2 separate regions of the Homo sapiens genome follow, and region 2 is linked to region 1. Evidence: fine-mapped expression QTL. A gene starts in region 1. The other region holds a variant in brackets. All regions are shown on one strand. Distances are between the middles of the regions.

The links. PIP is the estimated chance that this variant, and not a neighbour inherited with it, causes the effect.
Region 2: its variant is fine-mapped to the expression of CD101 in whole blood (INTERVAL, PIP 0.93).

Annotation. Positions count from the first base shown.
Region 1 is chr1:116,999,354-117,004,738 of GRCh38, reverse strand. CD101 (CD101 molecule) reads right to left here and starts at 2,979. Exons shown (of 10, transcript NM_001256106.3): 1 at 2,879-2,979. The coding sequence starts at 2,921.
Region 2 is chr1:116,963,368-116,968,752 of GRCh38, reverse strand. PTGFRN (prostaglandin F2 receptor inhibitor) reads right to left here. Exons shown (of 9, transcript NM_020440.4): 6 at 1,423-1,842. Among named protein-coding and RNA genes, the nearest start is that of CD101, 36 kb to the left of the region's middle. The variant G/A (reference allele first, on the strand shown) is at 3,071.

The DNA of each region.
Region 1 (5,385 bases):
CAACTCAAATGGCTATGCACTGGGGCCATAAGCTTAAGCATCTTACTATAAATATATTCTCTCTGGGTTTTTTCAAGTACATATCATCCACCCTCCGAAAAACACCTGTGAGGACTGCCCTCTTGCTCTCTCTTTTAATGGGTAGAGGGTTAGCTACTTTTGAATAGTAGCTCATATTCTTGTTGGCTGATGAGTACAAAGCTTGGCACTGACATACTAACATTAGAATCATGCTTTCAAAACACCAAAAATTCCTCGATGGTATTGACTTTCTTTAAAAATATCACTGGAATTGTCAAATTTACCACTGCAGTATTATTTGAATGAAAACGATTAGGTTGAACTGTATAAAATGGTCCATACTTGAGCACTTTTTATACCAAAAAAACAGCAGTTTCAAATAATGCTACCTTATACAAAACCTACCTCAGGAATAGCCAACATAACAAGCAGCTTCTTTCTCTTTTCACATTCAAAAACCCTATATGCTTGGAGGCTGAGATAGCTTCCATCCATACTAAGTGGAATCTTTTTTATTTTTCATGAATGCAAACTCAGTAAGACAGACAATAGCCCTTCCCCCAAACCCTGCCATATTAATGGCCATTATTTGTAGGGCAGCTAGTTTGGGTGGGGGAAATAGATCAAGCAGACAAAGCTAACTGCTAAATCCGAGAACTCATTTACCCATGACATTAATCTCATATGGCACCATTTTCTATCAGGATTGTTCAGTCCTTATATTTACTAAAAAAAAATTGGGACAAAGTGTAAATTTGCTAACCAATGTAATTGATCAATAGATCGTTATTTAAATAATTTATTTCAATTCCCCTCTATATTTGTAAGGACAAACAGCAGACTTCTAAAGCTTTTTCCAGTAACTTCCTGATTTATGTATTCTTCACATAAAAACTGTGCTTCTACACAAAATTAGTGCTTCAGATGAGTCAGAATTTAGAAGAAGTAAATGTATAACCCAGTTTAGGTAATTGTTTAAATGGGTTAAGGAAAAGCTTCCAGCTTCCCCTTTTTGAGCCTTGATTACTACTTTCCTTCCCCCAGGGCTTCTAGCCTGCTTACCAAAAAAAGAGACAGAATTTGCAATTCTATGAATTATTGCACAATGTAAACCCAGTTTCCTCCTATATACATAGCAAACATAGAATTCAAATACACAAAGCACATACACTTGAGAATCACACTCAGACAACTTAACCAAACAACAAAAACACACCAGCCCCCAAAGGATCCCACCAGTGCACCTATCCATCAACACCCGCCAAGCCAGTCTGGCAGGCATCCGTCACCCAGCAAGTGGTCCCAGTAACTTCCCCTGCAGGCCCTAGGTCTGACTCTTAACCTCACACTATCATATGTACCTAGAGACATGAGCACAATTCAACTCAATCAATGTTTATTAAGCAACCTCTTTGTGCTGAATGCTGTATTCTTTTCTTTTAATTCTTCAGCCATAGTCCTGGTCACACCAAATGCAGCTTGGTTTAGTTCCCCAATCATCCCAGCCATTCGGGTCCCTGCACTGGCTCCATCCAGTCTCTCTAAAGCAAGAGTTTTGTTTGTTTGTTTGTTTTTTTAGATGGAATCTCACTCTGTCACCCAGGCTGGAGTGCAGTGGCTCAATCTTGGCTCACTGCAACCTCCACCTCCCAGGTTCAAGCGATTCTCCCACCTCAGCCTCCCAAGTAGCTAGGGCCACAGGTATGTGCCACCATGCCCAGCTATAAAGCAAGAGTTCTTAACTGGGTCCACATGTAGGATTAAAGGGTCCATAAACTAGGGTGAAAAATAATCTTACATCTTTATTTTCATTTTTGCCTCTAATGGAAATTTAGTATTTTCTTCAGTTATGTATGTAGACAACCACAGATATCTTCATATCACATTACAACTACTTAAGATATATTGAAATGTTATTTATACTCATCATTACTTTGAAGTTTGGTGGTTAAAAGACCTACCTGTAGATTTTGTTATGTAATGCATAAATAAGAAGCAAATAAATTACTGCATTATAATTTATTTAAAATATTTTGATACCTGTATTTCAATGTGACTGATTTCCTCTGTAATTCTATGCATTTTATTTTATGCATTTTAAACATTATTCTGAGATGGAGTCTATTCTCTTTACCAGATGTTAATGAAAACTGTAGCATAAAAAGTACCTGCTATCTGGTTTGAAACTATTCCATTACCTGCTCAACTCATCTGACTCTCCCTTCTACCTCCAAATTTTCTCTTCTTCCATCCTATTCAAACATAGATAAATGCCCCTAGATCAGGCAAGCCCCTCTGCATGGCCCTCAGTAGAGCCAAGTGAATCTTCCTGTTCATTTCTCAGTCTCTCAGTAGTCAATTTCCACTTCCACTCGCAGGTGAAATCTAGAACCTTCTTTTAGCATAGTCTAAAACTACTAAGTACTTTCATAACCTTTCTTTCCATCCAGTCATATCTGCAAGGCATAGTTATCCCATCAAGCCTTAATATCAGGCAAACCTTAAGGTCTCCTCTCAGTTTGGGACACAAAGCTTTTTTACTGTCTCTTGGGATGATCGGCCCAGGAAGATGAGTAAAGCCAGGGCCAAGCAAAACTGACAGATCTGGCAACACACACAAATGTTAAAACCAATGGAATCTTGTGCATGGGACTCAACCAAGCATTGTGACTCCCTGGAACTCAAGGATGTCTAGGTAAGCCAAGAACTGTCATTAGTAAGTCAAAAATTATTGCTAACATCAGAAATATATGGCATAGTTGTTCCTGTAGAGACCAAATTGTCCTGTTCCATCACTCAGCACCCTGAGTTGATGAACTCCTGTGACAAGAGAAACATAAAGGATTATGAAACTTACTCAGAAGGAGAAAGAAAGATGCCACATATGAGATGCCTGCCATTTGGGCCAGCACAGTCCTTTTTCGTCCCAATAGTGTCACTAACATTCAGAGGTTGAGTGACAAATGCTGTGCTCTCACTGCAAAGTAAAGAGGAAGCAAAAGTGTGGTTTTCAGCCCACTGAGAAATAGAGATGTCTTGTGAAAAGCAAAACTGGTTACATTATGTAGCTCTTTACTAATCACTCAAATTTGGGAGTAAAAAAGTTATCTTTGTGGTTAAGTAAACAGATATCGATAAAACTAAGAAAAGATGGGTCTCAACCTGGCTCACAGTATGTGTCATTTGGTAATGATGAGAGAATTTAGGTAAACTGAATAAATAAAAAAGGCACCAGCAATGTTGTCTTCTTGGCCCTTCCTTCTCCTCCTCTCTTGAGAGAGGAAATGACTGAGAAATGGGAGAAGGCCCCTGAAAAACATGAACTTGGGGCGACATGAGGTGGTGCTGAAGGTTACAGGCTCTAGAGTCAGGCTGCCTGGGTTTGCATGCAGATTCTAGTTTTAGTAACTGTGCAATCTTAGAAAACTTAATTAACTTTTCCTAACCCTCATTGCTAAAATGAGGATACTAATAGTAGGTACCCTGTAAGATTACTGTGAATGCCAAATGAGCTAATTTTTTAATTATTTTTTTATTTCTTTTTTTTTGTATTTTACTTTTTTTTATTATTATTATACTTTAAGTTCTAGGGTACATGTGCACAACGTGCAAATTTGTTACATATGTATACATGTGCCATGTTGGTGTGCTGCACCCATTAACTCGTCATTTACATTAGGTATATCTCCTAATGCTTTCCCTCCCCCTTCCCCCGACCCTATGACAGGCCCCGGTGTGTGATGTTCCCCTTCCTGTGTCCAAGTGTTCTCACTGTTCAATTCCCACCTATGAGTGAGAACATGCAGTGTTTGGTTTTTTGTTCTTGAGATAGTTTGCTGAGAATGATAGTTTCAAGCTAATTTATTTAAAGCACTTAGAACAATATCTGGTACATAGTAACTGCTCAATGAATATTAGCTACCATCATCACCATCATGAGACATTTAAGTAAATCTTCATCTGCCCTGTGAAACTGCCTTTGCAAAAATTGTAACAGTGAGAAAGTTATGACAGTGAAAGGGATCTGACCTCACCATCTCCATCTTGCTTCTAACTTCCAAGCTGCCCTTGTTAATTCCTGGTTGTAGGCCAAACTAACTTTGGGAGGAATTTAGCTTAGTTTAATTTTGAAACAAAGAGGATAACAGCCCTTTCTGGAAACAAACCCCCTTCTTGCCTGGGGAGCAGACTTCCCTAGTAAGACTAACAAATTAGCCACAACATTAGAAATTATGGTTTAGGAGTCATGCAGCCAGAGGCCACACAATTCCAACCTCCCCAACTGTTCCTAGGGATAACATCACTATTGTAAAACCTAAATTGGTGCTCAAGGTATTTTTCAGACCCTGCATCCTGATGCACCAGCTGACACCATCCAGGCTGGTGATCTGGTTCCACCAGTTCTTTGATCCCACTTAGGAACGGAAGACTGCAAGAACCCCCTTTGATCCCCTGTGATTTCATCTCCTACCTGACCAATCAGCACTCCCCACTCCCTGGCCTGCCAAATTATCCTTACTAACTCCAGTCTCTGAATTTCCGGGGAGACTGATTTGAGTAATAAAACTCTGGTTTCCCATTTAGCTGGTTCTGTGTGAATTAAACTCTTTCTCTATTGCAATTCTCCTGTCTTGATAAGTCTGTTCTATCTGGGCAGCAGGCAAGGAGAAACCTGTTGGGCAGTTACGCTAATGGGCAGTTACACCGATGTGAACCCAGGTATCAAGGATGGCAGAGGAGTATCTAAATGCAACAGTTGGCCCTGAACCTAGACTAATACTACGCTAGTGCTAGAGTTCTCAGGAAGCTTCCACTTAAATCAGATAATCACAATGCAATGTGTCAACAATCAGTGGGGCACCTATAGGGGGTGGGGAAAATTGGTAGGCAGGAGGGAAGGTCAAGATGGATTGGGCTGGGCCAGGTGAGTCAATGAGTCATCTAGAGAGGCAGGGGGCCAAGGTACAGTTGGGGAAAAACCGTGTGGCATGAATAGTAACACACAGGCTGTACTATCTTGTTGGAATGAAGTTTGAGGTTGTTGTGAAAGAAGGATCTATACAGGTAGGATGGGCAGATCTTAGTGGGCTTCGTGTGCCAAGCCTAAGAGCTTGGCTTTTATTAATACCTCAAAGAAGAGGGAAGCTATGAAGATTTTTAGTGGTAGTATAGCCTGGTTGGATTTTCCGTTTTTCCTTTTAAGTTGAATTCTGTATGTGTGCATTGCTAACAGGTTGAAAGGTGAAGAAGGGAGACAAGGCTAGAAGCAAGAAGGTCAGTTACAAGGTTTTTGTAGTTGTCTCTATGAGCAATAATAAGGGCCTGAAGTAGGGCATTTAAAATAAAGACAGAGGCCGGGCGCAG
Region 2 (5,385 bases), 36 kb after region 1:
GACAGAAAGTAAATTAGTGGTTGCCAGGGGCAAGGGCATGGGGGCATGGGAATGATTACTAATGAGAGTGGAGTTTCTTCTTGAGGTGATTAAAATGTTCTGGAATTAGATAGTAGTGATAGTTGCACAACTCTGTGAATATACTAGAAACCACTAAATTGTACACTCTATATATAGTAAATTTTATAGTATGTGAGTTATATCTCAATAAAGCTGCTATTAAAAACAAACAGATACACAATAAAGGAGGCCTATGCTTTCTCCAAATCTAAGGGCTTAAATCAATATTTACCCTTTAATTTAAAGGTCAAGAGATCTTAGAAGATTATTTCACTATGGTATATATTATATACCATAAAAGGCTATAATAATAGAAAATAATATTAATAGAAAAACTTTATTAGAGTCTAGCTTACCTTTAATATAAATGCTAATCATTTAATTCAACAAATATCTTGCATTCATTGTATGATTCAATTGACACCTGAATTTTTACAGATAAGTATTAATTTATACATTCAGAAATTTCTAACTAAAACCCAGGAACCCAGGGCAGAGTTAGTGAAAACACTTAGTATTAAACTCACAAATGATAATCCTTTGCATTCATATTCTAAATAAGATTGGGGTTTAAATACTTTTAAATCATCTTCCTACTGAAACACACACATACACAGACAGAGGATGTTAAAGATCTTCCACTTTGGCAAGTCATTTAACACCTTGGGAGGCTCAATTCCCTCCTCTCTTTCTTTATACTCCACTATGTTCCCTAAAGTATTTGAAGTAGCTGAGCTTCAGCTCATTTTCTTAAAATGAAAGCAGAAATGAAAACATACATTCATCAAAAATTTGTACATGAATGTCCACAGCAGCATTATTTGTAACAGTCAAGAACTGGAAACACCCAAATGTCCATCAACTGATGAATGGATAAACACAATGTGGGATATCCATACGATGGAATCTTATTCAGTCATAAAAATGAACAAAGCACTGATACATGCTACAATATGGATGACCCTTGAAAACATTTTGCTCCAAAAAAGAAGCCAGATAGAAAGGCCACATATTATATTCCATTTATGTGAAATGTCCATAATAGGCAAAATGTATAGAGACAGAAAGTAGATCATGGTTGCTGCAGAATGGGAGGTGGGGAATGGAGTGTGAATGGAGGGTATTGGCTAAGGGGTCCAGGTTTCTTTTGGGGTCATGAAAATGTTCTAAAACTGGTCGTGGTGATGATCACACAACTTTGTGAATATATGAAAAGCCACTGAATTACACACTTTAAACAGGTACATTGTATGGCATATGAATTGCATCTTAACAAAGCTGTTTTAAAAAATGAGGGCATCTGATCAAAACCCTAGGGTCTCTTCTAGCTCCACCTATGATTCAACAGGGCTCACTGCTCACCTGAGGTTTGGAAGTCTATCTCAATAGGATTGGAGAGACTGGTTGCTGCTTCTCGCCAAAGGCTGCCCCTGACAGGAGACCAGGCTGTCACCATGCAGCGGTACAGCCCTGCGTCTGAGACCTGAGTCTGGTACATTCGATAGCGGAACTCATCCTCCTGCACTTTTTCTAAAACAACGCCATCCACCCGTGATGCATCTGTCCAATTCTCCAGCTTCACCACAGAATCCTGGTCCAGAGAGATGATGTACTTCGTTTCATTGGGACTGGAGAGGTCGCCGACAGGCTTCTCAGCCATGATGAGAACAGAGTAGCGTGGCGACTTAATATTCTTGGAAGATACTTTGCAAGTCATCTCAAATGTATTTCCGGCAGCAAAGAAAGGCTTTGGCTGCCTCGCCTTCACCACAAGCACGGAATCTGGAATGAATGACCAGAAGGATGTGATTTCCAACAAGATCAGTTAAAATAAAAATGCAACTAAAAGCAAAATAACCAAGAAACAGAAATGTATTTGCAAATTGCCACACAAAAGCACCTACGAAAATCTGGAAACTCAGAAAGAAAATCATGTGTATCTATAAGCAGGCTAAAACCACCCCATTGAAAGTAATAGTCTGAAATGAATCAGTGGGTGTCAGGAGAGAGGAAATTATGGTGAGAACTGGTTTTAAGGATTTTTAAGTCCTTAAGAAGTTTCACCAGGAAGAATCTGGGAACCCGCTATTGGTGCTCCAAAAGATGCAAGGCAGAGGACACTCCTATAAAGGTGGGAAAGACATGGCTGAACACAACACCATGACCTCCAAGCCAGGCTCCTGGCCATACCATTTGCCTCTCCTCCCCAGGGGTCTGCTAAGTGCAGGGGAAGTGCCCCTAGCTAAGCTAGCCTGCAGGGAGGAATGCAGCAAGGGAGAAATGAATTCTCCCTGTTTAATCATATGATAGTGACATTACAGAACAGATGTATTGCTAAAATGACTGTAGCGTATGTATTTGCAGATCTAATAATTTCCACTTGCTTTACACTTTAATTTCAGAAATGCTGTTTAAACATTTTGAGAGGTGTCTATGGCTACGCTAACTTTAGGTTTAAGTGGATTACTCCTTGTGTCTCTGTCAAAACAACAATGCCTATGCATGTACACATTAGAATTCATCTATTATAGTAGCACAACGTCAGGCACTTGGAAGGTGCTTAAATATTTGTTGAGTGGATGAATAAATGAATTAGATACATTCTTTTTATCCTTTAATAAGATGATTAATCCTATAATCCATCCAGTTACAAGATGAGATTTTTACGTTAGATTTTTTGGAACACTTGTTCCACCAAACCGATTAGCAGAACATGTATATTAAGAACTCTCTCCAGAACCACTGACTGCTGAGCTTCTACTGAGCCACCACATTCTTTCTTGATTTTCCTGTGAGTTCGGTCATTCATTCATCAATTTAAACATATATTTATTGACAGCCTTCCATACTGCAGGTACTGGAAACATAACGGTGAACAAATAAATACAAAAATCCCTCCCTTTATATGCCAGTGAAGGAAGACAAATGAAATAAACAAATAAAATATATGGTATGGTTATATGGTGATAAATGTTTAAGAGATAATAAGCAGCCAAGGAAGAGAAAAAGC[G/A]TGGATTTGTATTTGGAAGGAAGGTGTGTGTGCCACAACCGTAAATAGAGTGATCAGGGACATCCTCACTGAGGAGGCAACATTTTAAAAAGAACCTGAGCTGGGTGTAGTGGCTCATTCCTGTAATCTCACTGATTAGAGAGGCTGAGGCGAGAGGATTGCATGAGGCCAGGAGTTTGGGATCAACCTGGACAACATAGCAAAACCCCGTGCCTCTAAAAATAAAATTAAATAATTAGCCAGGCACAGAGCATGTGCCTATAGTCCCAGCTACTTGAGAGGCTTGAGTCCAGGAGTTTGAGGCGACAACGAGTTATGATGGTGCCACTGCACTCCAGCCTGGGTGAGAGAGCCTGGGTGAGAGAGCAAGACTGTGATTCTAAAAAAATAAAATTAAAATTAAAAATAAAATAAATAAAAAGGACCTGAAGGAGGTGAGGGAGCAAGTCCTATCTATCTTGGGAAGAGCATTCTAGACTGATGGAACAGCAGGCAGAAAGCTACAAGGCCGGAGCACACTTGGTGTATTTGAGGAGCCTGGAAGGGCAGAGTGGCTGGATGGAGTGGGTGCTGGGGAGGGTGCTAGGTGAGGCCAGAAGGTAATGTGACCAGTTGGTACAGAACATCTAAGACCACTTAGAGGACTCTGGGTTTTGCTCTGAGTGAGATGGGGAGGCTTTGAAAGTTTAGAGTGAAGGAGTTTCAGGACCTGACTTATATTTAACAGGATTGTTCCAGCTGCTGTGTGCTAGGGCAGAGCAAGGAGACGATCTGGGAGGCCAGGGATGTAATCCAGGCAAGGGTGGCGCCATAAATGGCAGAGTGTGAAAAGTAGCCAGATTCTAAGTCAATTTTAACAACGAGCAGTCAAGGATGAAGGTTTTGGGCTGAGCCACTAGAACAATGGTGCTGGAGAAAGCTGGGAGAAGAGAGCTGGCAGATGTGATGGGAAGCGTCCTTTTGAACAGAAGCTTGAGATGCCTGTTAGTCAAGTAGTGTCAAGGAGGCAATGTAATATTGAGTCTGGAGTTCTGGAAAGAGGCCTGGGGTAGACATGTAAATCTGGAGTCACTGGTTTCTAGATGGTATTTAAATTGATGAGATTAGAGACATCACCAAGAAGGTGAGGTTAAATAGAAAAGAAGTCCAAGTCCAAGGACTATGTCCAAAGACTATGTCCTGAGGTAGTCTAATGTTTCCGGGTCCAAAAAATGAACAGAAGCCAGAAAAGGAGGCTGAGAAATGGCTAATAAAGTTGGAAGAAAGCCCTGAGAAGGCAGTGTCCCACAAGCCAAGGGAAAAACCAAAGCATTCCCAGGAGGAGGGAATCACCTGCGTTAAATTCTGCTAAGTCAAAGAAAATAACTGACAATAGGATTTTCCAATATGATGATTACTGGCCATCTTACCACAAGCAGCTGAGGGGAAAGCCTGATTTGAGTAGGTACCAGAGAGAATGGAAGGAGAAAAACCAGACACACTGAGTATATATACGTCAAATATTGTTGTTATAAAAGGAAAAAGTAATAAGTAGACAAATGGGTGTGGGAAACAGAAAGACGGATGAAGAAGGAAGATCAAGACTAGCATAAAAAAGGGGGGGCGCCCGGCACGGTGGCTCATGCCTGTAATCCTAGCACTTCGGGCGACTAAGGCAGGAGGATCGTTTGAGGTCAGGAGTTCAAGACCAGCCTGGACAACACAGTGAGACCCTGTCTCTACCAAAAAAAAATAGCCAGGCATGATGATAGAGGCCTATAGTGCCTCTAGTTCCAACTACTTGGGAGGCTGAGGTGGGAGGATAACTTTAACCTACCTAGGAGGCTGAAGCTACAATAAGCCATTATCATGCCACTGCATGTCAGCCTGGGTAACAGAGCAAGACCCTGTCTCAAAAAAAAAAAAAAATTAGCTGAATGTGGTGGTGAGCACCCGCAGTCCCAACCGCTCGGGAGGCTAAGGTGGAAGGATCACTGGAGCCCAGGAGGTCAAGGCTGCAGTGAGCTACAATCACACCACTGTACTCCAGCCTGGGCAACAGAGTGAGACACTGTCTCTAAAAACAAAACAAAACTAAAACAACAAAAAATACCACAACCCTCACTCCCCACCCCCTCTTAAAAAACCCAAGGAAACCTGGATCTAACAGCACATTGACAGACCAATAGGAAAGGTCCAGAAGGGAGAGAATTACCAAAGACATAAGAGAGAGCAGCCATGGTCTAAGTAGTGAGAGGGGCTGGCCTCTGCCAGGACATATGCCACGTGACCTGGTCTCAGCCCTGGGGCAGCGTGAATGGGAATTCTCCTGATTA